Linked DNA regions of Homo sapiens: all the other regions are linked to region 3. Evidence: fine-mapped expression QTL. A gene starts in region 3. Each other region holds a variant in brackets. All regions are shown on one strand. Distances are from middle to middle.

Region 1 (8,106 bases), 200 kb before region 3:
GCAGTGAGCTGAGATGGTGCCACTGCACTCCAGCCTGGGTGATAGAGAGTGAGACTCTGTCTCAAAAAAAAAAAAAAAAAAAAAGAGTGATTAATTAAAGAACTGACAAGCAGTGACCAAGGGTCAGTTTGAAATTAGGCAATATGAGTAGAGCTCTGTGCCTTTCTCTGCAGCTTAAAGTCAAAAGCAAACTAAGTAGATTGTCAGGGATATTCAGTATGGAGGAGGGCAATGAAGGCTAGAATGGTGTCCTTTCTCTGAAAGGAGTAAAATCCTACAACTATGGCAGGAGACATCTTGGAGACTTAACGTGATGTGGTATTTTTGTCTTAGAGCAAATGCCATTGTTTCCTGACGGATTTCTGTGGTAGTTGGATCTTTGATTTCAAACCCAATATAAAGTTTCCTTAATAAATGCAAAGTATAGCCTATGATTCTATGTATTTTTCTGTATCTCAATATCTAGCTCCTTATTTATCCTCTAGTTACCATTTCTTTTTTTATCTTTATATGCATGTTGTTCCCTCTTGTCCATCTGGCAAACTCTTATCTTTCTTTGCTTTTTTTTTTTTTTTAAGACGGAGTCTCACTCTGTCACCCAGGCTGGGATGCCGTGGCATGATCTCGGCTCACTGCAACCTCTGCCTCCCAGGTTCAAGCAACTCTCCCGTCTCAGCGCCCTGAGTCGCTGGGATTACGGGTGCCTGCCACCACGCCCGGCTAATTTTTTTTTTGTATTTTTAGTAGAGACGGGGTTTCACCATGTCGGCCAGTCTGGTCTTGTACTCCTGACCTCAAGTGATCTGCCCGCCTCAGCCTCCCAAAGTGCTGGGATTACAGGTGTGAACCACCATGCCCAGCCATTATCTTAATTCAGAGCTTTCCTTCCTCTAGGCAGAATTAGATAGAACTCCTCTTATGCTCTTGGAATTCACAGACTGTCCATAATACTGTAATAGCATTTATCACATTATAATGCAATTGATAATCTGAGCTTCTGGTTTTAGAAATTGTATCATAATTCTATTTTGTACCCCAGTGTTTGGCATGGTGCCAGTCATATAGTAAATGTTCAATAGATATTTGATAAATGAATAAATAAATCAGAAGGATGGTCTCTTAATGCTTTTCAAAACACTAGGGAGTATATACAGAACAGATGTCCCTACTTATGAGGAAAAAGCCCCAGATACTACATTTGGCCATTTTCTTCTTTAAACAGAGTCTACTAGATGACTGGGCAAGTAAGGGAACTCTGGTGGAAGAAATCAATTGCAAAGGTACTTCTTTAGAAAATCTCATCATGGAAATCACAGCACCTGATTCCCAAGGCAAGACAGGTGAGTACAGGCTCTTCAAAATATAGTGAATAAAAATTGCTCTTTGCTTTTGGCCTTTGGAGATGCCTCCTTATATAATTAAAGTGAAAATCAAGGTTGGATATGAAAACAAAGGGCATGCCCAAAGCAGTCTTCCCCTGCAACCTGACCTGTCACCCCTTTTGCTATATAACATTGCTCCATTTTGCAAAATTCCTTCCCATGATGGAAAAAGTAAATGAACTAGTTGTCCCACTTAGAACTATCAAATGAACACTGAATAATTAAAATGAGATTTTCATCTTGAGAATTTCCCTTTTTTGAATGTGTAAATGGGATGGGTAAGCATCATCTTTAAACTTGGGCACTGGCCAGCCACGAAGTCAGAAGATCAAAACCAGCCTGGCCAACATGGTGAAACCCCATCTCTACTAAAAATACAAAAATTAGGCCAGGTGCGGCAGCTCACACCTGTAATCCCAGCACTTTGGGAGGCCAAGGCAGGCGGATCACGAAGTCAGGAGATTGAGACCATCCTGGCTAACACGGTGAAACCCCATCTCTACTAAAAATACAAAAAATTAGCCAGGCATGGTGGCGGGTGCCTGTAGTCCCAGCTACTCAGGAGGCTGAGGCAGGAGAATGGTGCGGAGCTTGCAGTGAGCCGAGATCACGCCACTGCACTCCAACTTGGGCAACAGACAGAGCGAGACTCTGTCTCAAAAAAAAAAAAAAATACAAACATTAGCCGGGCATGGTGGCACGCACCTATAGTCCCAGCTACTCGGGAGTCTGAAACAGGAGAATAGCTTGAACCTGGTAGGTGGAGGTTTCATTGAGCCACGACAGTGCATGCACTCCAGCCTGGGCAACAGACAGAGTGAGACTCCATCTCAGGAAAAAAAAAAAAAAAAAAAAAAAAAAAAGTTGGGAAAGCCTGGGTAGGTATGATTGTGATATCCAGGAAGAAGCAAGGTATTTAGAAGTCAGTGTTGGGCCAGGCATGGTGGCTCATGCCTGTAATCTCAGCACTTTGGGAGGCCTAGGTGGGCTGATCACTTGAGGTCGGGAGTTCAAGACCAGCCTGGCCAAAATGGTGAAACCTTGTCTCTACTAAAAATATAAAAATTAGCCAGGCCTGGTGGCTTGTGCCTGTAATCCCAGCTATTTGGGAGTCTGAGGCAAGAGAATGGCTTGAACCCGGGAGGCAGAGGTTGCAGTGAGCCAAGATCGTGCCACTGTATTCCAGCCTGGGCGACGGACGGAGACCCCATCTCAAAAAAAAAAAAAAATCAGTACTTCAAAGGGGGTACAAAGATTGTGCCCAGATGTGTATATAATCTTTCACTGCAAATTAAGTCTTTGAAGCAAAATCTAATATGAAGGCCAGGCACAGTGGCTCACGCCTGTAATCCCAGCACTTTGGGAGGCCAAAGGAGGTGGAACACTTGAGGCCAGGAGTTCAAGACCAGCCTGGCCAACATGGTGAAACCCCATCTCTACTAAAAATACAAAAATTAGCCAGGCATGGTGGCTTGCGCCTGTAATCCTAGCTACTCAGGAGGCTGATGTGGGAGAACTGCTTGAACCCGGGAGGCAGAGGTTGCAGTGAGCCAAGATTGCGCCACTGCACTCCAGCCTGTGCGACAGGGCGAGACTCTGTCTAAAAAAAAATAAATAAATAAACAAAATCTCATGTGAGTTCCCAGTCACTTGCTCGTTGTTAATTGAGATCACATAAGTTTTATTACTAGTCTGTGATAGTGCACTCCTATAGTCACTTAACGAGTAAAGGAAAAATTTATTTGCTTTCTGAAAATGTGTACTTTTCTATAGTATTCTAAAGTTAAAAGATATTTTGGAACTATCCACAAGTGACATTTCAGGGAATTGGTGATATATCAACCTCTACGTTCAGTGACTTATTCGTGTGACTAAATCAGAGTCAGCAAACTTTTTCTATAAAGGGCCAGATAGTAACTATTTTAGGTTTGCAGGGTATATGGTCTCTGTCACAGTCATATACCTCTGCCATTGTAACAAAAACAGCCAAAGA[C/G]AATACATTAATAGAAATGAGTGGTTGTGACTGTATTCCAGTAAAACTTTGTTGAAACAAAGGGCCAGATTTGACTGATGAGCTGTAGTTTACTGACTCCTAGACTAGATCATTTTTTTAAAAAAAAACCAGAAATCTCATATAGAACAGAAATCTCATATAGAACCCTACTACGTAAAACAAAACATTTTGTTGGCTGCCGGGCGCAGTGGCTCACGCCTGTAATCCCAGCACTTTGGGAGGCCGAGACGGGTGGATCATGAGGTCAGGTGATCGAGACCATCCTGGCTAACACAGTGAAACCTCGTCTCTACTAAAAATACAAAAAGTTAGCCAGGTGTGGTGGCGGGTGCCTGTAGTCCCAGCTACTCGGGAGGCTGAGGCAGGAGAATGGCATGAACCCGGGAGGCAGAGCTTGCAGTGAGCTGAGATCGCACCACTGCACTCCAGCCTGGGTGACAGAGCGAGACTCCATCTCAAAAATAAATAAATAAATAAATAATAAAAATTAAAAGAAACCATTTTGTTGGTGTAAGTTTCCCTTATATGTTATTTTATAGCATTTATCTGTTATGAAATCCATCAGTAAGAATATTGAGACTAACTTAACGAATATAAAAATTTGAAAAGGAAGATTATTGGATGACAGCTTCACCATCTAATTTCTTTCTTTCTTTTTTTTTTTCCTGAGACGGAGTCTCGCTCTGTTGCCCAGGCTGGAGTGCAGTGGCACGATCTCGGCTCACTGCAAGCTCCATCTCCCAGGTTCATGCCATTCTCCTGCCTCAGCCTCCCAAGTAGCTGGGACTACAGGCACCTGCCACCACGCCTGGCTAATTTTTTGTATTTTTAGTAGAGACAGGGTTTCACTGTGTTAGCCAGGATGGTCTCAATCTCCTGACCTTGTGATCCACCTGCCTTGGCCTCCCAAAGTGCTGGGATTACAGGTGTGAGCCACCAGGCCCAGCCTATCTAATTTATTTCTAAATTTTGTTTGGTTTCATTGTATCCAGAAAATATGGTTCACACAGATTAAGTAACTGCAAATGATGACAAATGTTTTTGAAAGTTGACTTCACAATGTCAGAACAGGCTTTGATTGAATTGAGCTAGAAACTTGAAAGTGATGTAATAAGAAATTATTGTTTCAAAGTTAAATCACTAAGAATATTTAATGAGGGCTTTTACACATAGAAAACACTTAAGACTGACATTGAGGACAAAAACTGTCCAACTGACTTGAAGTGTTAAGAATTCTATTATTACACAATTCTGCCACAATGAGAACTGTGTAGATGTACAGAGAGCAAGTCGTGTTATATTTTTGGTCGTGTTATTTAATGTATTACACATGTGCTATAGATGTTTTTCTTTGTATAGTATACATGAGTGGACATGGACAGGTTTGAATATCATAAATTGCTGGTAAAGAGCTACCACCTTTCCAATCAGGGACACTCAAAAATAACTTAAAATAGATGCTTAGATGTGTCAGGAGCTGCTTTACTTTCCCCAGAAAAGCAGCATAATTGGTTTTATCTGGTGGGTTAAGGTGTAGAATTCAGCATAATTGAACATGCATGTTTTATTATCATTTCTAAGTACTTAGAAATTTATGTGAATATTACATTTAAACCAAACATTAAACACAATCCCTAAAGCACGTTTTTAGGGTGTTTTGAAAATCAGTTTGAAAATTACTATCTTGAGTGCTCTCAAAGTTCTCCTCCAACTCTGAAAAACCATGTATATTTCAGTTCCTTACATTTATCTAGCTCCGTTTCATAAAGTACTTTGATATACATTCGCTCATGATCTCTTCCCAGTTACCCCATGAGAGTTAACAGGATAGGTTGTATTATCTTTAAATCCTGCAGAATAAACTGTGTTTGTAGATTAAGGCTCACATACTGAGTTAGTGACAACCTTGGTTAGTACCGTCTTCTCCCACCTACTAGTCCAGTTTCTTTTTTTGCATCACCACACTGCAATGGAATGTTATTTTTCTATTTTGTATTTTTTAATCGAAAATATAATAACATTAACATTTAAAAGTTTTATAATCACCACCCTAATTCAGCTAATTTTTTTCCTTCCTTTTAGAGACAGGGTCTCGCTCTGTCACCCAGGCTGGAGTACGGTAGTGTGATCATGGCTCTCTGTAGCTTTGACCTCCTAGGCCCACGCAATCAGCCCACCTCAAGCTCCTGAGTAGCTAGGACCACAAATGTGCACTGTCATGCCTGACTAATTTTTTTTTTTTTTAATATTTTTTTGTAGAGACAGGGTCTCGTGTTGCCTAGGCTGGTCTTAAACTTCCACCCTCCCAAAGTGCTGGGATTACAGGCGTGAGCCATTACACCTGGCCCACAACTATTTTGTTTTTGTTGTTGTTTTGAGATGGAGTCTTGCTCTGTCGCCCAGACTGGAGTGCGGTGGCACCATCTTGGCTCACTGCAACCTCTGCCTCCCGGGTTCAATCGATTCTCCTGCCTCAGCCTCCCCAGTAGCTGAGACTACAGGCGTCCGCTGCCACACCCAGCTAATTTTTTGCATTTTAATAGAGATGGGGTTTCACCGTATTGCCCAGGCTGGTCTCGAACCTCCTGAGCTCAGGCAATCCACCCACCTCAGCCTCCCAAAGTGCTAGGATTACAGGTGTGAGCCACCGCGCCCGGCCAACTATTTTGTAATATAACCTTGCACATGACTTTTTGTACAGTGAAGTCAGTGCATATGAGAGTTTTCTGTCCTTTTAAAGTATCATTATGAATATTTTTCAGATTTCTGTATAATATTTATCATTACCTCACCTGATTTTTACCTATCTTGGGAAACTTCTGAAATATAAGGAATCAGTTTGGGGAGAATGTATGTGAAATTATGGTGATTAGAAACAGAACCAAAGGCCCAAAGCACAATTTATAAGAATGTTGATGAGCCAGATTTATTGGCACTTAGGATTTCTGTTTTTTCTTGGGGAAAGGTGAGCAAGAAGAGGTTATGAAAGAAAAGGCAAATAATCTTCCTTTAAAAACAATATAAGAAGGGCTCATTTTAATGTCTTTATTAGAAGAAGGCTGCTTTTTAGGCCAGGCACGGTGACTCATGCCTATAATCCCAGCACTTTGGGAGGCCGAGGCAGGCAGATCACCTGAGGTCGGGAGTTTGAGACCAGCCTGACCAACATAGTGAAACCCCGTCTCTACTAAAAATACAAAAATTAGCCGGGCCTGGTGGCAGGCGCCTGTAATCCCAGCTGTTTGAGAGGCTGAGATGGGAGAATTGCTTGAACCTGGGAAGTGGAAGTTGCAGTGAGCCGAGATCATGCCACCGCACTTCAGTCTGGGCAACAGAGTGAGACTCTGTCTCAAAAAAGAAAAAAAAAAAGGCTGCTTTTTCTGTCCTTAATGGTATTTTCATTTTTATTATATTGAAAGATATTGATATAAAAGGTGAAACTTTCTGGCTTTATTATAAAAGCTTATTCCAAAATATGGCAAGTACCATTCTAGACTGAATAATTTTACCAGTACTTGCTTCACAAAATTAGGGCGGCATCCAGAGAATTCAAGTTGGAGATTTAATAAAAAGGGAATACGAATTTCCTCTAGAAGGGATTAAGAATCATTCCTGCTAAGAACCTTGAGTGACGTTTTGTTGCCTGGCAGCTAAAATAATTTGTCTCTTTCCATGAGTATGTTGTCTTGTGCTGTGTTAACTTCCTGATACCTAAGCTTAAAGTGAGGGCCAAAGGACAAATTCAGTGCCTATATGTATTCCTAACACGTTGGTCTTGCCCTGTTTGTCTCCCTGTCCTTCTGCTCAGGTTCCATACTGCCCTCTGTAGGAAGCTCTGTAGGCAGTGTAAACGGATACCACACCTGCAAAGGTGAGAATGCCATTTCAACAGTGCTTCTTTGTTGGATGTGTTAGGACAGTGTCTATGTTTGCATCTGTGTATGTTGCAATATGTGGTGGAAGAACTGCTGCCAGAATGGGTGTGAGGATAAAAATCTGGGGAGAAGCAACTGTGGTTTGCTGGCTATAGACCATAAACAGGTTGGCAGCCCCTGAAGCTAAAGGTATTGTAGAAATACAATAGATTGGATCACTAGATAAGGCAAATAGGGAAGGAACTCAAAGAAAATATATGTTAATCTTTGAATTATAAAGAAGTTATACTAGAGATAATCTAGTCTAGCTCTCAGCCTCCCAGCTAGGTGACTTCTCTGTAGTTTGGAGAAGAAGGAATGGAAGAATGCTCCAAGTCCCTTAATCCCAATAGTAAACTAAGGTTAATTTCTTACTTTGCTCCCTTCACTTTTGTTGTTCCCATGTTTAGCATTTTAAGGTATACATCTGAGTATATAATGCCAAAACCAGAAAGCAGATTAATGAGAATGCTTTTGTTTTGTGTATATAAATGGGAACTTTTGTATGATTTAGCAGGAAGATAATCTCTAATTCACTAGAAGGAGTAAGAGAGATGCAAGTAATTTAGGAGTGAGGAGTCAAGGAGCATACTCGAAGAGCTGTCTCCAATCTGATTTCTGTTTCTATGATACTAGATCTGACGGAGATCCAGTGTGACATGTCAGATGTAAACTTGAAGTATGAGAAACTAGGGGGAGTACTTCATGAACGCCAGGAAAGCCTTCAGGCTATCCTCAACAGAATGGAGGAGGTTCACAAGGAGGCAAACTCTGTGCTGCAGTGGCTGGAATCAAA
Region 2 (8,106 bases), 220 kb before region 3:
GGAGTGCAGTGGCACAATCTCGGCTCACTGCAACCTCTGCCTCCCGGGTTCAAGCCATTCTCCTCCTCAGCTTCCTGAGTAGCTGGGATTACAGGTGCACGCCACCACACCCAGCTAATTTTTGTATTCTTAGTAGAGACGGGGTTTCACCATGTTGGCCAGCATGGTCTCGATCTCTTGGCCTCGTGATCCACCCGCCTTGGCCTCCCAAAGTGCTGGGATTATAGGCGTGAGCCACTGCGCCCAGCTTTTTTTTATTTTTTAAAGACATGAGGCCTCACTTTGCCACCCAGGCTGAAGTGCAGTGGTACGATCATAGCTCACTGTAACAGGTGTGGACTCACCATGCCTCATTAATTTTTTTTTAAGAGACAGTCTTGCTATGTTGTTGCTCAGGCTGGTCTCAAAAACCTAGCTTCAGTGATACTCCTGCATCAGCCTCCTAGTCACTCAGCTTTCTTGAAATGATGTGGGAAGCTGAGGCTATCAGGTTGTTGTTGATACAGGCTAAAACTAGACGATGATCTGTAGTCCTTCTCTAAGTAGTGGCATAAACAGTATAGGTAGTAAGGAACACTGACAACTCCCACTGTCTTCTAGATTCAGGAAGAACATCCCAATATATGTTTCAAAACAAAAACTCACAGCTCTCCTCAAAGAACTCATATTCCATTGGAATAGAAAGAAGGTCTATGTATAAGCACATAGACACAGTACATACAAATAAAAAGTACAAATTACTTATTATTACCCAGAAATACAGTTTAATCTCTAATTATTGAATTAATTTTCCATGGCTTTTCCTAGTAGGGACAGTCTTCATGGACACATGAGTGACATATTTCACAGTTAAGAACTTGCATTTTTTTTTTTTTTGAGATGGAGTCTCAAGTCTGTTGCCAGGCTGGAGTGCAGTGGCAGGGTCTTGGCTCACTGCAATCTCTGCCTCCCAGGTTCAAGCAATTCTCCTGCCTCAGCCTCCCAAGTAGCTGGGATTACAGGCACTTGCCACCATGCCCAGCTAATTTTTGTATTTTCTGTAGAGACAGGGTTTCACCATATTGGCCAGGATGGTCTCAATCTCTTGACCTTGTGATCTGCCAGCCTCGGCCTCCCAAAGTACTGGGATTACAGACATGAGCCACCATGCCTGGCCAAACTTACAATTTTTATATTGTCACATGTATGATTTATTCAGCTACCCTTCCACTAATGTAGATGATTATTAGTTGTCCATTTGTACAGTTTAGCGAAGAGAGTCAGGTTTGAGTTGCAGTTCTGTTCGTTAACAAACTGCATGACCTTAGTCAAGATATATAACGTCTTTTTGGTATTCACTTACTCTTAATATGGGTATTATATTGTCTACCTACATTATAGGTCGTGCCACAAAGCAAATGAGATAATACATGTAAAATCTCTTTGAAAACCATAAAGTCCTATACGTGTCAGTTCAGAGGGGATTAGCATGTGGCATACTGTTTAGAGAGTGACTGATATTGGTGATTTCTGAGCAGTTGGAAAAGTGATCTATTGAGTAGAGGTAGAGACCTCTCCCTACTTCTAGCTTATAGGTAGATGGTCCTTGAAGATTATAAGTACAACTTAAGAGTCAGCATCTAAATTAAAGGGCTATACCTAAAACAAGGGGCTGAACTGAATAAAATGAAGTTAACAGGGAAAAATGTGAGATGCAGCAAAACTGAGAGAGGTGTATGACTTGACAGCAATGTGGGTGAAAAGACCAAGGCTGAATGTAAGCAGACCTCACATGGAGTATGAAGTCCAGTCTTGTATACCTCAAATTATTGTGGATTGCCTACTGATTGTCCTTTGTTTGGGGGGATTTTTTTTTACCAGGCCCGTCACCAAGAATTGCTGTCCCAGCAGCAAAATTTCATTCTGGCCACCCAGTCAGCTCAGGCCTTCTTGGATCAGCATGGCCACAATCTCACACCTGAGGAGCAACAGATGCTGCAACAGAAGCTGGGAGAGCTAAAGGAACAATACTCTACTTCCCTGGCCCAATCAGAGGCAGAACTGAAGCAGGTGCAGACACTTCAGGATGAGTTGCAGAAATTTCTGCAGGATCATAAAGAGTTTGAAAGCTGGTTGGAACGATCCGAGAAAGAGCTGGAGAACATGCATAAGGGAGGCAGCAGCCCCGAGACCCTTCCCTCCCTGCTAAAGCGGCAAGGAAGCTTCTCAGAGGATGTCATTTCCCACAAAGGAGACTTGAGATTTGTGACTATCTCAGGACAGAAAGTCTTGGACATGGAAAACAGTTTTAAGGAAGGCAAAGAACCATCAGAAATTGGAAACTTAGTAAAGGACAAGTTGAAGGATGCAACAGAAAGATACACTGCTCTCCACTCAAAGGTAAGGGGGCAGTTCCTGGCATCCTTGGTGAAACAATCATGGCAGCCTTCACACAATGTAGGTAGTGTCTGGGGCTCAGAATAAGAACTCCAGGACACAGTAGGAGAGCTGATTTATACTTGGACCATGGGCAGAAGGTCTTCACAAACAATGCACAAAATGTAAAATACATAGGTACTAGCCCAAAGGCCTGATAGCTAGCTAATACCTAATACCTAGCACTGGCAGGAGTATATCACACTGATGGTGAAGGTGGAAGTATTCCCCTTCCTGTATCCTGACCAGCAGACTTGGACTCCCAAGAGACATAGCACACAGGGGAAATTTAAACCAATTGCACAGTCTTTATTTCTGTCTTTATTTCACAGAGCATCTAGGGTGAATCCTTACCTTCCTTCCTATCTAAAGAACTTGCTCGCTCTTCTAAAGTTTAGAATCCAGTCAGCTCTTCTTACCTGTCTTATGCCTTCTGCCAACACTTCTAATCCCCAAGAAAGAATACTTTTTGCACTTCTTAACCCCTACCTTTGTCTGCAACCTTATGTTCATTTCTTTGGAAGCTTGTCATACATCTCATTAAATTTTCCTGGGAATGTAAGAAGGTCAAGGTGAATAGTATGGAGCAAACAATGGGGACCCACACTTAGAGATCATTGCTACCCATCTATCCATGGGTTCTGGCAATACCCTTATCTGAAGTTACAGTGAGTTGTCTGTAACAAAGCCAGGCCTCTTTCTTTGGGCAGCTGCTGCCTTTGGCCTGACCTTGCTTAAGTCTGCTTACCTTTCTTTCTCTGGCACAGTGTACACGATTAGGATCTCACCTGAATATGCTGTTAGGCCAGTATCATCAATTCCAAAACAGTGCTGACAGCCTGCAGGCCTGGATGCAGGCTTGTGAGGCCAACGTGGAGAAGCTCCTCTCAGATACTGTTGCCTCTGACCCTGGAGTTCTCCAGGAGCAGCTTGCAACAACAAAGGTAAGTCAGGACACAGGCTGTGTTGTGGTGTCAAGACCTTGTATTCCATGGCGTAAAGTACCCCAAAATAAAGCAAATGCTTACATAAAATAAAGGCAGTGGTTGGGATGCCTTGGACAAGATCTGAGTGCTAAACACTTGCTTCTAATATTTATGGCTATGGTTAAACTTACAATTATTCTGTAAAGCTGTTCAGTAGCTCCGGATTCCTAGAATCATCTTTGATTACTTAGATGTTTTTCTTTTGTTTTTTTCATGGACAAGCAGCAGTTGCAGGAGGAATTGGCTGAGCACCAAGTACCTGTGGAAAAACTCCAAAAAGTAGCTCGTGACATAATGGAAATTGAAGGGGAGCCAGCCCCAGACCACAGGCATGTTCAAGAAACTACAGGTATAAAGCAGCAACAGTATAATAGTACTCCCTTAATTCCTAGTATGTACCTCTATTCTGCAATATGTCACATTGTGTTGTGCAAATATCTGTGGTGCCAGGCTAGAGGCTGAGAATATAAACATGAATAGACATAGATTGTCATCAAAGAGCTTATCCTCTAATGAACTTTATTCTTGCACCATTGAAGGACCTTCACAATCTGGCTTCAGTCCCTTTTCCCCAGACATCTATCTTCTAGCCACATCTACTTTTCTTTCCCAAGTAAACCACTTACATTGTATTACCCCTGAAGTTTTTCCTATTGCTTAGCTGATAACATTTATTGAATGCTTACCAAGCGTGGTGAAATCTTGCCCATGCTTCAAGATGTAGCCAAGAGTATATCATGGTGACTATAGTTAATAACAATATATCGTATACAGGCCGGGCGTGGTGGCTCACATCTGTAATCCCAGCACTTTGGGAGGCCGAGGCGGGCAGATCACGAGGTCAGGAGATCGAGACCATCCTGGCCAAGAAGATGAAACCCCGTCTCTACTAAAAATACAAAACAAACAAACAAACAAAAAAATAGCCAGGCATGGTGGCAGGCGCCTGTAATCCCAGCTACTCTGGAGGCTGAGGCAGGAGAATGGCATCAACCTGGGAGGCGGAGCTTGCAGTGAGCTGAGATCGTGCCACTGCACTCCAGCCTGGGCGACACAGCAAGACTCCGTCTCAAAAAAAAAAAAAAAAAAAAAAAAAAATATATATATATATATATATATA[TATATATATATATATATAC/T]ACACACACACACACACATATGTATATACACACATATATACACACACACACATATATATCGTATACTTGAAAATGGCTGTGAGAGTATATTTTAAGTGTTTTCACCACAAAAAAATGATAAGTATGTGAGGTAATGCATATGTTAAATAGCTTAGCTTAGCCATCCCACTCCTCAAAAGAAACGAAAGATAATTATTCTTCCTTCTGGGCTTCTCGAGGACAGTACTTCTAGTATTAATATACCACTTAAGATTTGATTTTTATCATTAATTGTGATGCATCTTCCTCTGCCTATGCTCTGTTTTAAAGTCTTAAGTTGTAGATGTCAGATAAGATACTTAAGTATCTTTAGTCCTCAGCATCTAGTACAATTTCTGGTTCTTTGTATGCAGTAAATAACTAATGCTTATTGAACTTGGCTCTGATACTAATGCATTTCAAACTTATTCCTTCTATTGGTCTTAATGTCAATTATTATTACAATTACTATGTTCAATGTAGGACTGGGCATGGTGGCTCATGCCTGTAATCCAGGCACTTTAGGAGGCTGAAGTAGGAAGATTGCTTAAGGCCAGGAGTTCAAGACCAGCTTGGGCAACATATTAAGACCACATCCATATAATAATAATAATAATAATAATTTTTATTATTTATTATTTAATAATATTAATAATAAAGTCTTTAAAAGCATAATACAAAAATTGTCTCCACTCTTTCTTTTCATGGCCTGATTTTTCAGATTCCATACTCAGCCACTTCCAAAGCCTCTCCTATAGCCTGGCTGAGCGATCTTCTCTGCTGCAGAAAGCAATTGCCCAATCTCAGAGTGTCCAGGAAAGCCTGGAGAGCCTGTTGCAGTCTATTGGGGAAGTTGAACAAAACCTGGAAGGGAAGCAGGTGTCATCACTCTCATCAGGAGTCATCCAGGAAGCCTTAGCCACAAATATGGTAAGATCTGTGTCCCAAGAGCTAGCATAGAGGGTATGTTTGCTATGTGCCATCATTACATAATGTTGAAAAAGTAACAAGAGGGAACCTAATATCTGTGAATCATCTAATAAGATTTAGAAATGATAACTAATCTATGTAAAGATATTTCTACCCAGTTGAGCTGGAATGAAAGTGGAGATAGCAAAGTCATGTGGTAGAAGGGGTGGAGAACTAAGGTGATGAGATGTGTGGTATTCTGGAGGCTCGGTTGCAGTCCTCCAGTCCCCCTTGTGAGATAGCATATAGTTATTAGTTTGTGGCTCAGATGTCCTGGAATAAGTGAACCAGGAGCTGACAGACGTGTTCTTCATGACAGAAATTGAAGCAGGACATTGCTCGGCAAAAGAGCAGCTTGGAGGCCACCCGTGAGATGGTGACCCGATTCATGGAGACAGCAGACAGTACTACAGCAGCAGTGCTGCAGGGCAAACTGGCAGAGGTGAGCCAGCGGTTCGAACAGCTCTGTCTACAGCAGCAAGAAAAGGAGAGCTCCCTAAAGAAGCTTCTACCCCAGGCAGAGATGTTTGAACACCTCTCTGGTAAGCTGCAGCAGTTCATGGAAAACAAAAGTCGGATGCTGGCCTCTGGAAATCAGCCAGATCAAGATATTACACATTTCTTCCAACAGATCCAGGTGAGGATATATCTGCCATGTTAGCAGAATAAAGGGAAGAGAAGGGCAGGGAGAGAACCAGCATTTGCTGAGCGCATACTACATCAGTCAGTATACTGGAAACTACCTGCATTATCTTTGGGAATTATTACAGTGATCCCGTAAACTAGGTATCATTTGTCCATTTTTTAAGCAACACAGTCAATATTTATTTTTCACTCTTATTACATGTTCAACCCAAATCAGCAGGGCCACTCAGTTCATCATAGTCACTCAAGGGATGCAGATTGATGGAGATTTCATCCTGATATAAGCTTTCATGATTACTGCCTCAGTGGTAAAAGGGCATATTATATTTATTTACATTTTATTAGTCAAAGCACTTTCCACAAAACCACCTATACCTTTCAAGAGGGTGAGGAAATGTAATCTCACCACTTACCTAGAAGGTGCAAAGCTAGAAATATTTGGTAAAAGTATTAACAGCTACCACAGATATATATCCAGAAGTAAAACTGCCAAGTCATAGTATATGCATATATTAATTTAATTCGACTCAGTAGTGGCCAATTTGAGCTCCAGAATGGCTGTACCAGCACACATTCCCACCTGTAGTACTTCAGCATTCCTGTATCTCTGCATTGCTGCCTTCGCTTTATCCAGCTTTCTAACTTTTTCCATATTAAAGTGGAATCTCATTGTTTGGTTTGGTTTGCTCTCCTTTTTGCTTTGAATGATTTCAAACTTACAGAAAAGCAGAAGAAATGGTCCATTACACACCAGCATACTCTTCACCTAGATTCACCAGTTGCTAATTGTTTTCCCTCTCTTATAAAAATATAAAAGAGAGTATCATTATGGGCTTCTATATTTGTTATTACCATTATTCTTTATGATACTTAACGTTTTCCCAAATGTGGTCGGTGGGAGCCTCTTCAAGCTGTCTCCTGTGGCTTTTTGACATGTCTTCCTCAGCATAAGAGCACTTTTGGAACTTAAGATATTTGTGGCACAATAATGTATTTCCTTGTCCCCTATCTGAAATCAGCTATTTATCCAAGGAGTCCCACTTTTAGTGGGGAATGATATTTAGAAACCAAATCTGGACACTAGATGAGCTACTGGAGTGTCACTACTTTTAGGTTCTTTTTAATAGATAGTGTTAGGAAATATATGTGTATGTTTCTTATATCATAAAATCATACTGATAGTCTAGTCTCAACGCAACACCATAGGAATCTTCCTCCTTTCCACATTTGTATCTTCCTTTCCTGTAGGGAGAACCCTAGTTCCCAGCAACTTTAATATATTTACTTATTTGTTTTATTCTACAATAAATATAAGATAGTTTTAGAATTACATTAGTATTTCTACCAATAACAAACCTGCTAAATAAAATTGAAGATTTCTTTGGATTTGTTTTTGTCCTTAGCCTATGACCCACTATGTACTGTGTTCAAAAATTACCTGAATTATTTTTTCTGTAATTTCTTATATAATTAGATTTGTTTCTATTTGTATTCAACTTTAGGACTTTATTTTTCTACCTTTGTTGATTAAACTTATTTTTAAATATGTAAAGCATTAACATAGGTCAAAAGTTAAAACTCTTCAAAAAGTTATACTCAAGGTATAGGAAGTGAATAAGGATATATTCTCATTGTCTTTCCTGTCTCTTCCATCCCATTTTCACCCATCCCCATAGTAACACATTTCAGGTTTATTTTTTTCTATTCCTTTTTACCAAAATGAACATACACACACATTCTTATTCTCCATTCTTCCTTACAAAAAAGAAGGGTATATTACGTAATCCTTTGCTTTTTTACTTAATATGTCTTGGAAATCACTTAATATGGATTCACAGAGATCTTTGTTTTTTAAACCATACTTTCATTGTGTAGAAGAGTTACAGTTTAATCAACAAGACTCTTTCTTTCTTTCTTTCTTTTTTTTTTTTTTTT
Region 3 (8,106 bases):
GTAAGGGAAGCATAAGTTCCAGCTAATGACTCTACTTCATGACAGAAGTCTAAACACCCTTCTGGGTCTGTGCCCTTGTTGGATAAAGGGGCCACAAGTAAAGATAATCTAAATGGCCTTAATGACACCAAGATCCAGTGATAATACCTCACATTTGACTAAGCTTTACCACTTAGAAGAGACTTTGCAGACTACCACCCACCATGACTCAGGTGGGACAGCTGAAATTATACATTTTACAAAATGAACAAACTTATGTTTAGGGTAACTAAGCTGTGCAGCTAGCTAGTAATTACGAAACTAATACTAGATTATCTGATTTATTTTTCAGTGAGGTATTGCATCAAAGTTATCAAGTCATTTAGTCTGCAATCCACCTATGGAGACAAGTGACAAAACCTGTAAAGCAAATGATCTGGAAAAAAAAAAAAAGGTGCTATCCCTGAATTCAGAATTCAGTCCAGTTTATTTTCAATTTCTGAGAACAGAAATTGACTTAAACAAAAAAGCATCAGTCATCAAAATGGACACAACTGATCACACATGGAAAAGTTCTCTGTACTATCACAAGGATAAAACCACCATACCTTCTGCCTAAGTAGACAGTGCGCAGATGGCAGGCCCTGCACCCACCTTTTGAAGCCTTAATGGAAGTTCTGTAGAATTCTAGGACTTCAGCTACCCTGGGTGCTCAACCAACTTCCCCATCCAACACCTTGGAATGCTTCCTTAGCTTCCCAACCAAGTCCGTGTGTACACCAGAGACAATTTAAAGAACCAAAGGCTGGGCTGGGTATGGTGGCTCACTCCTGTAATCCCAGCACTTTGGGAGGCCAAGGCGGGTGGATTACCTGAGGTCAGGAGTTCGAGACCAGCCTGACCAACATGGTGAAAACCCCATCTCTACTAAAAATACACAATTAGCTGGGCATGGTGGCGGGTGCCTGTAATCCCAGCTACTCAGGAGACTGAGGCAGGAAAATTGTTTGGACCCAGGAGTCAGAGGTTGCAGTGAGCTGAGATCGCGCCATTGCACTCCAGCCTGGGCAGCAAGAGTGAAACAGTGTCTCAAAACAAACAACAACAAAAAGAACCAAAAGCTAAAAAATAACACCACCTGCCAGCCAAAACACTTCTCATCACTAATCGCAACAAGGATGCCCAGATCTGGTGGCCACTTTTCCTTAAGGCTATGATGGCATCTCCTAACGGTGACATCACCCAGAACCTCCTCCATGAGGGGATTTAGACAGGGTCAGAGCAGTGGAACCTGCTCCTTGCCTCAGGACAACATCTCACTTAAAGGGGGGACAAAATTCCCCAACTCTGCCGCTCCACAAGCTCAACTGTTTCATTAGCCGGGAGAATTTATTTTCACTCATTATTTCCAACAACTTTCCCCACCCCCTTCAGAAGGTGGGCCTCATCTGTGTGGGGGGTAGTTGGGAAAAGGGGAGATGACAAGACCGATCCAAGTCAGGAACAGTCCAGGGAAAGAGGACTTTGCTTGTGATGGCTATCAGAGATAGATAGCTGGGATCGCAAACTATTTCATTAATTAGCAGTAAAGGAGCCCACTTCAACAACAGCTCCTCGTCTATTTCCAGACAGCACTGCACAAGGCAAGCCGGCTTAGTCTGACAAATCTGGCTGCACTTATTTATAGCAGGGAGAAGTCCTGCAGAAGTATGTGTTGGCAGACACACTGACCAATAGCTTCTGCTATCTCTAAGTGACACGACTTTTGTTCAAAAGTCAGTAAGGCAGACAACAGCTAATGTGGTACATTATCCCTTAAAAAGACCACACTCAGCTACCTTTGCGCTCCTATGGCCATGGACAGAACTCAGCTTGGAGCACACTGGATTGACAGTAGCAATACCTAGTCCCTCTCAACATGTCCAATTCTCTGGTCTCAGCCGCAACCTGGGCAGGTAGTAACTCTGGGCCTCAGACAGAAAACAAAGGGGGGACCCCAAAACTAGGGACCTGGAGATGCTTTGCCATAGAATGGCTTGTTTCTCCCAGTAATGATCTCTGCAGTTGTTCCCTTTTAATCTGGAGTCACGTGCAGCCTCTGATCAGGTTTCCTCTGGCCTCCCTCCTGCCACGCCTGCAGCATACCTCTCTCCATGCTCCACGCTAAGGCCACAATCTGAGGTGGCAGAGCACTGTGCTGGGAGTCCTAACTTGGCTTCCAACTTTTTGCATTCGTTCTCCTTCTCAGGAGTCCCATTTTCTTCAGATTAGATGAAATAAAAGGGCTCTGACTAGTGCAAAGCACTGTTACAGCTGAGGTGACAAATGACACCAGATTTTCAAGTGACGCTTCCCTAAACTACCTCCACGACACTCTACAGCACAGAGCCTGGATACCATTTGTCCAGAGTAAAGCACTTCTCCACTCCAGTGGCAAACACACAGACCAAGGAGGTGGCCTGGCACACGCAGCTTTTGTGGCACTAACCTAAGTCTCTGCGAAAGTTTAACGCACAGAAACCTTCCCCCTGCTTCCTGCCTGCCCTGACTGATCCTTTATCAGCACAACATCAGGTAGTCAAGGTTAGTAAAGGTGGCGGAGCGGGCAGGAGCTTTACAATGTAAAACTTTCGCGGGGAATTGTGTTTCAAACGTCCCGCCTTTTTGGCCAGCCTGTGAGGGGCACAAGCAAGGATCTCTAACAGCCCAGCCCCACTGACAAGGACCACACGCAGTGGAATGCCAGTGGCTTCACTCTAATCCTGTTTTACAGTCTCCTTGGTTTCCAACCCCACTACCAGCAACACTAATAAGTAGCCCAAGGTCACCCAGTTAGCAAGTGGTAGAAACAAGATTGAAACTCGAGTCATCTGATGCCAGGTCCGCGTTCTCAATCTCCGCACCCTGCTCCCAGCTTCGGTGGCAACATGCTGTCGTGATGCCGCCCTCCTCGGCAGGAGGGCCCTGCCAGAAGACGACTCCCGGGGTCCTCCGGGCTCCCACGCACGTGTGGGCACAGCTTCTACTCACCGTCGGCCGGCTGCTGGAAGTTGACGTAGGCATAGCCCAGGGAGCGGCGGGTGATCATATCGCGGCAGACCCGGATGGACAGCACAGGCCCCGCGGGGCTGAACTTTTCGTACAGCATGGCCTCGGTGACGTCCGAATGCAGGTCGCCCACGTACAGGGAGGCCATGGGGTAGCTGCTGGCCGCAGCGTTCATCTCCCCGCCCCCCACCACCCCGAGCCCCGCCAGGAGGACTTCTTATCGGGCCCGCCGCAGGACAAAGGGGCGCCTTCGGAGCCCGGGCCCGCGCCGCGGCTCACAGGTGGCACCGGCGCGGCGAGGACGAGCTGGAGTCGGCGGGCTTGGAGACGGGACGGAAACGGGAGGCGGGGGCCGGCTCCCACGGCCGCAGCACCGCAGACAAAAGGCTCTCCGCACAATACGGCCCTCCCCGCGACTTTGCACTTCTCCGCGGTCCTGGTGCGAAGCTCCAAATTTCAAAAAATCAAAGTAGGAAAAAAATTAAACGGGGAATCCCCTTCCGAAGGGTAAAAATCCTTTAAGAGGCGACCGGACGCTGCCCACGGCGGCCTCGGGGACACGCGTTTCTCTATAAATATAGGCCTCGGGCTCCGGCGGTTTAAGATTACAACCGCCGGGGCAGAGGGAAACCAAATCTTTGTGGGCGCCGACTCGGCGAGCCCCGGGCGGGCGGCGAAGGGCAGCACGGACACGTGGTGCGCCGGGGCAGGCGCGGGGCGCGGGGCTCGGGGCCCGAGCGGGGGGAGGGCACGGCGGGCCGGGCGGGCGGCTCACCCCCGGACCGACGGACGGAGACCGACGGACGCCAAGCGCTGCGGCGGCGGGCGCGGGGCAGGCCGGAAGCGTACGAAAGTGACTTCCCCGCGGGTTCTCCGAGGATTCGTTTTTTCTTTTCCTTTTTTTTTTTCAGGATTTTGAAGCGTTTTCAGATTTTTTTTATCTTTTTCTCTTTTTTTCCTCAGGCTGCGAAGCCCGAAAGCGGCGGAGGCGGCAGCGACCCGGGGCGGAGAGAGGCGGCCGAGGGAGCCACCGCTCCATTTATACCCGCCCGCCCCGGGCGCTGCTGGTCGAAGGGCGCCTCGCGACCTGGGCGCAGTCGTGCCCGCCCACTCGGCCCGGGGGCCCGAGGCGGGGCGGCCACGCGAGAGCGACCCGGCGCGGCCGCGCGGCGCTACAGCGACCCCTGGCGCCGGGAGGACCGCCCAGCTCGCGGCTGCGGGAGACCCCAGGGCCCCTTTCTATAACAAATAAATCTTAACACCCTCCCACCCATCACCCGGGAATGGAACCTAGGAGCCATTTAACCTGCACACACGCATGAGGTTTAAAATTAAATGGTATGGGGCTGGGTGCAGTGGCTCACGCCTGTAATCCCAGCACTTTGGGAGGCCGAGGCGGATGGATCATGGAGGTCAGGAGATCGAGACCATCCTGGCTAACGCGGTGAAACCCCGTCTCTACTAAAAATACAAAACATTAGCCGGGCGTGGTGGCATGCGCCTGTAGTCCTAGCTACTCGGGAGGCTGAGCAGGAGAATAGCTTGAACCCGGGAGGCGGAGGTCGCGGTGAGCCAAGATCGTGCCACTGCACTCCATCCAGCCTGGGCAACAGAGTGAGACTCCCTCTCAAAAAAAAAAAAATTAAATGGTATGCCAAATTGTGAAATGAAGGTGACATAAAATAAGTTAAAATAAAATAATAGGTGGTCCAATAGGTAAATGTCTGGGTCCAAATACAATAAAGATTTGAGAAGTTTTCAGGATACCGTTGACCTAGAGGTAGAATCGTCAGGAACTAGAAATGCAAGCAGTATCCATGGGTGATGGGATTTTCTGAAAAGATGAGCACATTTTGGTAAAGCTTCAATGAAACCAAACACAAGCATCCCCTCTATTGACATGCTGGTGGCATTCCCGGACATTTAGTTTGTGTTTAAGGGCACAGAAATACTTTCTGTTCCTATGTTTAAAGTTTCTTCTAGGCTTGGATAATTATAAAAAGACTTTTCATCTGCATGAGAGTCTGGCAGGTCATTTGAAAGTCGTATCACAGGCCAGGCGTGGTGGCTCACGCCTGTAATCCCAGCACTTTGGGAGGCCGAGGCGGGCGGATCACTGAGGTCGAGAGTTCGAGACCAGCATGACCAACATGAAGAAACCCCCGTCTCTCCTAAAAATACAAAAAGTAGCCAGACATGGGGGTGCATGCCTGTAATCCCAGCTACTCAGGCGGCTAAAGCAGAAGAATCGCTTGAACCCGGCAGGCAGAGGTTGTGGTGAGCTGAGATCATGCCATTGCACTCTAGCCTGGGCAACAAGAGCGAAACTCCGTCTCAAAAAAAAAAAAGTCATATCACTTTATAGGACTATGTTATATGGGACTGTCCACACGCATTACAAGATATATAGCATCCCTTCTTCCATAAGTGCCAGGAACCACCTTTGCCATCACTGTGAAAACCAAAAACAGAAATTGCCAAAAGACACAGACATCCCCCTTCAAAAGCACTGATTTAAGTAAATGACTAAAGAAATATGTGTATTTATATATTAATTAATTCAAATAAATGGTTAATCTGAGCCTACTCTATGCCAATGTCAATACAGGGGCTGGAGATACCATGGTGGACCAGAAGTCACTCCCTCTCTCATGGAGTTTATATTCTAATAACTATATTAAATCAAGAAACATTGGCTGGGCACGATGGCTCACACCTGTAATCCCAGCACTTTGGCAGGCTGAGGTGAGCGGATCACCTGAGGTCAGGAGTTCGAGACCAGCCTGGCCAACATGGTGAAACCCCATCTCTACTAAAAATACAAAATTAGCCGGGCATGATGGCACGTGCCTATAGTCCCAGCTACTTGGAAGGCTGAGGCAGGAGAATCGCTGGAACCCAGGAGGCAGCGGTTGCAGTAAGCTGAGATCATGCTACTGCACTCCAGCCTGGGTGACAGAGCGAGACTCCGTCTCAAAAAAAAAGGAACATTTATGGGAGTGCTCCTTCTATAGATTCCCTCCTCAGGAAAGTCTTCCTAGACCTCCTGTGGTCTAAAGTAGCCGTCAACATTGTTAATCACTATCACACCAACTTGTCTTCTTGTCTTCAAGCCTGTTATTCCTACCCAAAATTATGTTGTTCTATATCTGTTTACCTGTTTAGTATCTATCTTTTCCACATTGGTATATAAGCTTCATGAGAACAGGAATCTAGAATAGTGCTTAACATAGCACGTACTAAATGTTCAGTAACTGGCCAGGCAGGTGGCTCACACCTATACTCTCAGTGCTTTGGGAGGCTGAGGCAGGAGGATCGCTTGAGCCCAGACATTTGAAACCAGCCTGGGCAACAGAGTGAGACCCTATCTCTACAAAAAAAAATTTTCTTTTAATTGGCTGGGTGTGGGGACACATGCCTGTGGTCTCAGCTACTTGGGAGTCTGAGGTAGGAGGATCGCTTGAGGCCAGGAGTTGAAGGCTGTAGTGAGCTATGATCATGTCGCTGCACTCCAGGCTGAGCAACAGAGTGAGACTCTGTTACTAAAAAATAAATAGATAAATAAATATTCAATATATGTTTGTGTGTGTGTGTGTGTGTGTGTGTGTGTGTGTGTGTGTTTTCTTGTTTTTTTTGTGGGGGGGGTATGAAATCTTCCTCTGTCACCGAGGCTGGAGTGCAGTGGTGCAGTCTCGGCTCACTGCAACCTCTGCCTCCCAGGTTCAAGCAATTCTCATGCCTCAGCCTCCCAAGTAGCTGGGATTGCAGGCATGCGCCACCACACCTGGCTATTTTTTTTTTTGAAACCAACTCTCGCTCTATTGGCAGGCTGGAGTGCAGTACTGCGATCTAGGCTCACTGCAACTTCCGCCTCCCGGATTCAAGCAATTCTCCTGCCTCAGCCTCCCGAGTAGCTGGGACTACAGGTGCGTGCCACCACACCTGGCTAATTTTTGTATTTTTAGTAGAGATGGGGTTTCACCATGTTGGCCAGGATGGTCTCAATCTCTTGACCTTGTAATCTGCCCGCCTCGGCCTCCCAAAGTGCTGGGATTACAGGGGTGAGCCACCACGCCCAGCCTTTTTTTTTTTTTTTTTTTTTTTGAGACAGAGACTTGCTCTGTCACCCAGGCTGGAGTGCAGTGGCGTGATGTCGGCTCACTGCAACCGCCACCTCCCGGATTCAAGTGATTCTCCTGCCTCAGCCTCCCAAGTAGCTGGAATTACAGGCACCCACCACTATGCCCAGCTACTTTTTGTATTTTCAGTAGAGATGGGATTTCACCATGTTGCCCAGGCTGGTCTCCGACTGCTGACCTCAGGTGATGTATTCGTCTCGGCTTCCCCAAGTGCTGGGATTACAGGCGTGAGCCACACACCCAGCCTGTGTATTTTTTTTTTTGTTTTTTTGTTTTTTTTGAGACTGGGTCTCGCTCTGTTGCCCAGGCTGGAGTGCAGTGGCGCGATCTTGGCTCACTGCAAGCTCTGCCTCCCGGGTTCACGCCATTCTCCTGCCTCAGCCTCCCGAGTAGCTGGGACCACAGGTGCCCACTACCACGCCCGGCTAATTTTTTGTATTTTTTAGTAAAGATGGGGTTTCACTGTGCTAGCCAGGATGGTCTTGATCTCCTGACCTCGTGATCCGCCCACCTTGGCCTCCCAAAGTGCTGGGATTACAGGCATGAGCCACTGCATGTATTTTTTTTTAAGCAACAAAGTCTCACTGTGTTGCCCAGGCTGGAGTGCAGTGGCCTGATCATAGCTCACTGCAGCCTCAAACTCCTGACCTCAAGCGATCCACTTTGGCTTCTTAAAGTGTTGGGATTACAGGCATAAACCACTGCACCTGGCCTAAATATTTGTTAAATAAACAAATGAATACTAGGCACAGATGAGCAAAACCCACACAAGCTCTGACCTCCTGAAGCTTATTGTCTATTGGGGGAGCTTATTACCTATATTACTTTGGGCAAGCTAGTTCACATCTCTGACCCTCAAATTTCTCATCTGAACTATACTAATAAACCTTATTAACAATTAAAAGGGTTATTGTGAGAATAAATGAATACATATAAATAC
Region 4 (8,106 bases), 160 kb before region 3:
CATTAGGAGCAGCATCTAATGTTTTTGAATCTAGAGCACCAGAAGGTAAGAAGCTGGATGAGAGGATAATATTTGATGCACTAAAGCTAAGCAGTGATGTGCAGAAGTCAGCACCTGTGCCACCCAGAAGGCGGCCAAATGCAGAACGCAAAGACAATGTTAACAGGAGATCGTGGAAGTCCTTCATGCCACCCAACTTCCCAGAATTTGCAGAGAGGATAGAAGCTTCTCTCAGTGAGGTTTCAGAAGCTGGTGCTTCAAATCCTTCCTTGCAAGAGAAGAAGGAGTCCAGTTCTGCATTAACAGAAAGTTCTGGTCATTTGGACCACAGGGAACCTCAGTCAGAGTCAGTAACTCTGGAACATGTGTCCAAATCCATAGGTATTCCAGAGGTGCAAGATTTTAAAAACTTAAGTGGAGACTGCCAGGACTTTAGATTTCAGCAGCACAGTGCAAACCCTCCTCATGAATTCCAGCCTGTAGAATCAGAAGCTGTAGCAACAAGTGGTAACACAGATGTAATGCAGGAATCCAGATTCTCAAGTGCAACCTGGCCGAGGGCCACAAAAAGTTTAGCTAAGGGAGGCTTCAGTGAGAAGCAGCACCCCCTTGGGGACACAGCCTGCACTGTGGAAATGCCACCTCTCTCCCCTTGCCTGAGTGAAGAGCTGTTAGATCCAGAATTGCATGTTCTCATAACCCCCAGCCTGAGAGAGAAAACAGAGTCTGAGCTAAAGTTTGAGGAGGATGAGCGATGGATTATGATGGAGGCTGAGGGAGAGTGGGAGGAAGAGAAACTGTCAGACAGGGAAAAGACTTTTCTGATGGCAGATGAGAAGAACAGCCTGGCAGATATTTTTGAAGAAAGAGAACAAGCAAACACAGCAGTGGTGGAGGATGGATCCGATTGCTTAGCTGCTGTCTTGAGGACTTTTGGCCACCTATCTCTTGGTCAGATTTGTTGCCCTGATGACCCACAGCCAGCCAAGGACCAGTTGGCTACTGTTCCCAAGGATATACCCCTGGATTGCGATTGTGTTCTTACAGGTGAGGATATTCTCGGTGAGGTGGCAAACAGAACTGCTCAGGGGTTAGAGGGACTTGTTTCAGATTCAGCATGTACTGTGGGTACTATTGATGCAGAACAGCTCTCTGACACAGACTCAGTGCAGATGTTTCTTGAACTTGAAAAGGAGTGTTTATGTGAAGAAGGAGTAACTCCTCTAGTTGAGCTACAGAATCAAATCTCTTCTGAAGGGCTGGCTGCATCCCAGGATGCAGAAAATTTACTCGTAATTAGTCATTTTTCAGGGGCTGCCTTAGAAAAGGAACAGCATTTAGGCCTTTTACATGTAAGGGCAAAAGATTATGATACTAGATTGGATTGTGGATATTTTAATACCCTGGATTCTTCTCAGGTGCCTAATGCTGTGGAACTTATTGCCCACGTTGATATCATGAGAGACACTTCCACTGTTAGCAAGGAGGAATGTGAAAAAGTGCCTTTTAGCCCCAGGACTGCAGAATTTAAGTCCAGACAGCCAGCTGATCTGGATTCACTGGAAAAGCTGGACCCAGGAGGACTGCTGAACTCTGATCACAGGGTTTCTCATGAAGAAAAATTATCAGGCTTCATTGCTTCTGAGCTGGCCAAAGACAATGGCAGTTTGTCCCAGGGAGACTGCAGTCAAACTGAGGGGAATGGTGAGGAGTGCATTGAGAGGGTCACCTTCAGTTTTGCTTTTAATCATGAACTAACAGATGTTACCTCAGGACCTGAAGTAGAGGTGTTATATGAATCAAATTTACTAACAGATGAAATTCATTTGGAAAGTGGGAATGTAACTGTTAATCAAGAAAATAACAGTCTGACATCAATGGGAAATGTGGTCACTTGTGAATTGTCTGTGGAGAAAGTTTGTGATGAGGATGGTGAGGCAAAAGAGCTGGATTATCAAGCCACACTTTTGGAGGATCAAGCTCCAGCACATTTCCACAGAAACTTCCCAGAGCAGGTCTTCCAGGATCTCCAGAGGAAGTCCCCAGAGTCAGAGATTCTGAGTCTGCACCTGCTGGTTGAAGAACTGAGACTTAATCCAGATGGAGTGGAAACTGTGAATGATACAAAGCCTGAGCTGAATGTGGCATCATCAGAGGGAGGGGAGATGGAAAGGAGAGATTCAGATTCATTCCTAAATATTTTTCCAGAGAAACAAGTTACCAAGGCTGGTAATACTGAACCAGTTTTAGAGGAATGGATACCCGTCCTCCAGAGACCTTCCCGGACTGCTGCAGTACCCACTGTCAAAGATGCCCTAGATGCTGCACTGCCCAGCCCAGAGGAGGGTACCTCAATTGCTGCAGTGCCTGCCCCAGAGGGAACTGCTGTAGTTGCTGCTTTAGTGCCCTTTCCACATGAGGACATCCTAGTTGCTTCAATAGTCTCCTTAGAGGAGGAGGATGTCACAGCTGCTGCAGTATCAGCCCCAGAGAGGGCTACTGTCCCAGCTGTTACAGTATCTGTCCCTGAAGGGACTGCTGCAGTTGCTGCAGTGTCCTCCCCAGAGGAGACTGCTCCAGCTGTTGCAGCAGCCATCACACAGGAGGGTATGTCAGCTGTCGCAGGGTTCTCCCCAGAGTGGGCTGCTTTAGCTATTACAGTACCCATCACAGAGGAGGATGGTACACCAGAAGGGCCTGTCACCCCAGCTACCACAGTGCATGCTCCAGAGGAGCCTGATACTGCAGCTGTCAGAGTGTCCACCCCAGAGGAGCCCGCCTCCCCAGCTGCTGCAGTGCCCACCCCAGAGGAGCCCACCTCCCCAGCTGCTGCAGTGCCCACCCCAGAGGAGCCCACCTCCCCAGCTGCTGCAGTGCCCCCCCCAGAGGAGCCCACCTCCCCAGCTGCTGCAGTGCCCACCCCAGAGGAGCCCACCTCCCCAGCTGCTGCAGTGCCCACCCCAGAGGAGCCCACCTCCCCAGCTGCTGCAGTGCCCACCCCAGAGGAGCCCACCTCCCCAGCTGCTGCAGTGCCCACCCCAGAGGAGCCCACCTCCCCAGCTGCTGCAGTGCCCACCCCAGAGGAGCCCACCTCCCCAGCTGCTGCAGTGCCCACCCCAGAGGAGCCCGCCTCCCCAGCTGCTGCAGTGCCCACCCCAGAGGAGCCCGCCTCCCCAGCTGCTGCAGTGCCCACCCCAGAGGAGCCTGCCTTCCCAGCTCCTGCAGTGCCCACCCCAGAGGAATCCGCCTCCGCAGCTGTTGCAGTGCCCACCCCCGAGGAATCTGCCTCCCCAGCTGCTGCAGTGCCCACCCCAGCAGAATCTGCCTCCTTTGCAGCTGTGGTGGCCACCCTGGAGGAACCCACTTCCCCGGCAGCTTCAGTGCCCACCCCTGCAGCTATGGTGGCCACCCTAGAGGAATTCACTTCCCCGGCAGCTTCAGTGCCCACCTCTGAGGAGCCTGCCTCCCTAGCAGCTGCAGTGTCCAACCCAGAGGAGCCCACCTCCCCAGCAGCAGCAGTGCCCACCCTAGAGGAACCCACCTCCTCAGCAGCTGCAGTGCTCACCCCAGAGGAACTCAGTTCCCCAGCAGCTTCAGTGCCCACCCCCGAGGAGCCTGCCTCCCCAGCAGCTGCAGTGTCCAACCTAGAGGAGCCCGCCTCCCCAGCAGCAGCAGTGCCCACCCCAGAGGTGGCTGCCATCCCTGCTGCTTCAGTGCCCACCCCAGAGGTGCCTGCCATCCCAGCTGCTGCAGTGCCTCCTATGGAGGAAGTTTCCCCCATTGGTGTGCCCTTCCTGGGAGTTTCTGCCCACACTGACTCAGTGCCTATTTCAGAAGAAGGAACACCTGTTCTAGAGGAGGCTTCCTCCACTGGAATGTGGATCAAGGAGGACCTTGATTCCCTAGTATTTGGCATAAAAGAGGTGACCAGCACAGTGCTACATGGGAAAGTGCCTCTGGCTGCAACCGCTGGATTAAATTCAGATGAGGTAATTGTCCATTTTGATTCTGGGAAGGGTCTAAAGAGTAAAGTGAGATTTGCAGGGCTGACCTGGTGGTGATGAGAAATGGCACAGATAGTTCTTTTGTTCTTTTTGGGTCTCCCGGGCTTATAGTTTGTAGTCTTTCTGTTCAGTTTTTGGGGAAAATATACTTTAATTTTGTCTGGTGAAAGACTTTATAATTTCATGCTTCGTTTTTTATTCAGATAAGCCAATCCCACGGAAAACAGGGATATAAACAGTTGTTGATTTACATTTTTAAAAAGATTATTAGCAGGAAAGGGTCATTCTGTTTTTGAATTATACAGTGAGCATGTTCTTGCCTAAACCAAGAGACAGTTTATTCATTGGTGGTGTCAACATTTAGGTAGAGGCCAGAGTGTGAGCTTTGGAATGAGACCTGGGGTGCTTCCTAACCACTCTGGGAAAATTAGTTAGCTATTCTTGAGTTTCCTGTTTCTTCATTTGTTAAGGCATAACTCTGTGAGGATAAAATGAGATACATTTAAGGTACCAAGCGTATAAGATTACCAATCACTGGCCATATCCTCCCCATTCTTTTCAAATAGGTATGTTGGTTGGTTGAAAGAATTTACCAAAGTAGATTGGAGAGAAGCAATAAAGCTAAATGATTAAGAACTTTTAAATGCAAATATGTGTTTCTGAAAACCAGAGCTAGGCATAATGTTTATGAAAAATAGAGATATTTTAGTCATCTTTGTCAAACTGCCTTTGTGTCCTTAAGCAAGTCATTTTCCTTTCCAGGACCTCATTTCTTCATTATAAAACAAGAAAATTGGGCTAAATGTCCTCTTGGGTCTCTCTTGGCTCTAAGATTCTTTTTATTTTTTTTTTTTAGATGGAGTCTGGCTCTGTCAGTCAGGCTGGAGTGCTAGAGTGCAGTGGTGCGATCTCAGCTCACTGCAAGCTCCACCTCCCGGGTTCACGCCATTCTCCTGCCTCAGCCTCCCGAGTAGCTGGGACTACAGGCGCCCGCCACTACGCCCGGCAATTTTTTGTATATATATATATATAATTTTTTTTTTTTTTTTTTAGTAGAGACGGG[T/C]TTCACTGTGTTAGCCAGGATGGTCTCAATCTCCTGACCTCATGATCTGCCCGCCTCGGCCTCCCAGAGTGCTGGGATTACAGGCGTGAGCCACCGCGCCCAGCCGGCTCTAAGATTCTTAATGTTAGAGAACCGAATGTGTTAGGAAACAGTTGGAAACGATGTTCCACATCCTTGAGCACTCCTAGTCCAAGGAATTTGAGATCAGCAGCTTTCCACAGTTAATTACCCAGGTTTGATTTGGTCAGTGGTAAAGAGTGCAGGAGTTAGAGGTTTAATCTGAACACAAGAGATGACTGAGTGAGAAGATTGTTTTGATTTTACTGCGCCCCTAGGACTCAAAATAGTGCCTTCTTCATAGCAGGCATTTGCTGTTGACTGACTGACTGAATGCATGAATATCAATTTCCTAGACTATGGATGGATGCTACAAGAAAGATGGGTTTTCTCATTCACCTCACTGCAGAGCCTTTCAGGGCAGCCTTAAGTCAGCTAGAGCACCAGCTAAACATGCAGGTCCTGACAACAAAATCATTTTGATTGCATGCCATAAACTCTTTGATTAAGAGGATTGATTAAGATAATCTGGCCTTGCTGAGTGGTGGTGGTTTTACCTTGAGCTTTACCAGTTATTTTGTCAGGTAGCATTCCATTAAATTAGGATGCATCATCTTTGAGACTGATGGATTTTTGATTCATTTTTCCGAGTTTTATTGAATTTGGAATGACACCGAGATCCCAATAGCCTGTACAAAGTGAAGACAGTAGGTCAACAACAGAGCCATTCTTGATAATACAGAATATTTCACACCAGGCACAGTGGCTCACACCTCTAATCCCAACATTTGGGAAGCCAAGGGAAGAGGATTGCTTGAGGCCAGGAGTTCGAGAACAGCCTAGGCAACATAGTAAGACCCCATCTCTGAGAAAATAAAAAGAAAAAAAAAAAAACAGAATATCTCCAGTATAAAGCTTATATAGCAGTAATCATGAAATATAAGGATTAAATTTATAGTGAGGCAATCAAATCTGCATAAAGGGGAAAAAGTCATAGAAATCCTGTATCAGTCTCTGGAATCCTTGTTTCCTCATCTGCAAAATGAGTAGATGGCTACATAATCTCTAACTATCCTTCCAGCTACAGGAGGTAATCCTTTTATGAAATATTGCCTGATGTAAATGACAGGAGAAGGAAATGGTAGCCCAGCTGCAAAGTTGTCCATCTTTGAAGTGTGGTTACTTTGTGGAATATCTGGAAGTGAGCAAATGCCTATATCTGTGTACAGGAAAGGATAGATCTGAGCCTCAGCCAGGACTGTTAACCAGCAAGAATGTAGAGAGGCCATTTTGAAAATATTGAAACAAAACAAATCATTATAGAGTTAACATGAGTATACAGGTTTGCTAAATTGGTGAAATATTATTTTAAAAGGTTTTTCCAAGATGAGAGGTTAATTTTTTATTTCTTCCATTCCCTTAGGATTCCAAGAGGCAACTGAACCTGCCATTTTTATATATAAATACTTAGAACTCAACAAGTGATTTAGCATGAACTGAGGTCCTCTATGTCTGTATGTATATGTGCAAGTGCAGACATGGATACATGGTTAAAATAGATATAAACTTTGTAATTGCAATAACAACAGAGTTTGGTAGAACTAAAATGCCAAAAACTCGTTTGCTTTTTCTGTAATGGGATCTGAGGCCTACTGAGACCAATCTCTGGTTATGTAAATTCCCTGCTTATTTATAGACCTCTTCAGTCTTAATCCCAGCCACTGGTTCAAAGGAAGAAAAAAACCTTTTGTATAAAATAAGGGTTCTATAAGATTACAATTTGCCAAGGGAGTCTTTTTAAGCAAAAATTGGAGAGCACCACAATTCCAGTTCAGTGTTTGAACGCTCTGCTGATCGGCAGAATCTTCATTGGTTTTTTGCATTCCCTAACACCGTTTGTGTACAAGGATTCATTCATTCATGGAACAAAAAAAAGTTTTTGTTTTTTTTTTTAGACAGAGTCTCACTCTGTTGCCCAGGCTGGAGTACAGTGGCACAATCTTGGCTCACTGCAGCCTCTACCTCCCGGGTTCAAGCAATTCTCCTGCCCCAGCCTCCGAAGTAGTTGGGATTACAGGAATGTGCCACCACACCCAGTTAATTTTTTTTTTTTTTTTTTTTTTTTTTTTTTTTTTTTGGATTTTTAGTAGAGACAGGGTTTCACTGTGTTGGCCAGGCTGGTCTCGAACTCCTGACCTCAGGTGATCCGCCTGCCTCGGCGTCCCAAAGTGCTGGGATTACAGGCATGAGCCACCACACCCGGCCTGAGTAAATATTATGAGTACCTACTCTGTGCCAGGTACTAGGCTCCTGCAGTAAATAGAATTGACATGGTCCTTGGCCTTGTGGAACTTATACTGAGTGGAGGAGGCAGATATTAAGAAAACCACACATAAATAAATATAAAATAAATACATAGTTAGAAATTTTGGCAAATTCTTTGAATAAAATGATGTCAATGGATTTGAAGACAATAGGGTGGATTGAAGATATATTTTGGAGGTAAAATCAACAAGATCTGATTGTGGCTTCTGTGTTGGGGCTGAGGGAGTTATCAAGGGTGACTTTTAGGTTCTGGTTTGTACAGTGGAGTGGATAGTATAAATTATTGATTTAAGGAAGAGGTAAGGGAAAGTGGGAGACACTGTTTCATTTTTGAACTGTTAGGCTTGGGATGCCTGTGGTTCATTTTTTTGCATGGAGATATTAAAAAAGCAGTTGGATACGTAGCTTTGAAACTCAGAGAGACAAATTGAGAGTCATAAGCATTTATTGTGGTTAGTATTTAAACCCACAGAAATTGATGGAATTGCCTAGGAAGAATATAGAAAGAGAAGAGAGTCCAGGACTGACGTCGTTCTCTCACTCCCACCCCCAAAGATCATTTAGAGATCTAGAAGAGGAGAAAGAAAACAAAGGACAACAGAAAAGAATCAGTCAGGATAAAACTGGAAAAATGCAATAACAAGGCTGGATGCCGTG

Which allele goes with the higher level. Alleles are on the strand shown, and positions count from the first base shown. SD is a standard deviation of normalised expression in the study named. Not every link is listed here.
For the expression in CD4 T cells of the gene that starts at base 4,041 in region 3, TATATATATATATATATAC is the high allele of the variant in region 2 and T is the other (large effect, 0.78 SD a copy in BLUEPRINT).

What was found.
Region 1: its variant is fine-mapped to the expression of PABPC4 in whole blood (INTERVAL, PIP 0.98).
Region 2: its variant is fine-mapped to the expression of PABPC4 in CD4 T cells (BLUEPRINT, PIP 0.95).
Region 4: its variant is fine-mapped to the expression of PABPC4 in whole blood (TOPMed, PIP above 0.99).

Annotation. Positions count from the first base shown.
Region 1 is chr1:39,371,257-39,379,362 of GRCh38, forward strand. MACF1 (microtubule actin crosslinking factor 1) reads left to right here. Exons shown (of 101, transcript NM_001394062.1): 52 at 1,223-1,340; 53 at 7,205-7,267; 54 at 7,947-8,106. Among named protein-coding and RNA genes, the nearest start is that of BMP8A, 120 kb to the right of the region's middle. The variant C/G (reference allele first, on the strand shown) is at 3,376.
Region 2 is chr1:39,355,515-39,363,620 of GRCh38, forward strand. It overlaps MACF1 (microtubule actin crosslinking factor 1), which reads left to right. Exons shown (of 101, transcript NM_001394062.1): 45 at 1,861-2,379; 46 at 3,183-3,359; 47 at 3,627-3,750; 48 at 5,279-5,487; 49 at 5,846-6,163. Among named protein-coding and RNA genes, the nearest start is that of BMP8A, 130 kb to the right of the region's middle. RefSeq lists an enhancer at 2,837-4,036. The variant TATATATATATATATATAC/T (reference allele first, on the strand shown) is at 4,522.
Region 3 is chr1:39,572,750-39,580,855 of GRCh38, forward strand. It overlaps PABPC4 (poly(A) binding protein cytoplasmic 4), which reads right to left and starts at 4,041. Exons shown (of 16, transcript NM_001135653.2): 1 at 3,010-4,041. The coding sequence starts at 3,202. PABPC4-AS1 (PABPC4 antisense RNA 1) reads left to right here. Exons shown (of 4, transcript NR_125979.1): 4 at 332-454. RefSeq lists enhancers at 2,726-2,845, 2,866-2,915, 3,416-3,485 and a silencer at 3,986-4,295.
Region 4 is chr1:39,410,489-39,418,594 of GRCh38, forward strand. All of the region lies in intron 58 of MACF1 (microtubule actin crosslinking factor 1), which reads left to right. Among named protein-coding and RNA genes, the nearest start is that of BMP8A, 77 kb to the right of the region's middle. The variant T/C (reference allele first, on the strand shown) is at 5,068.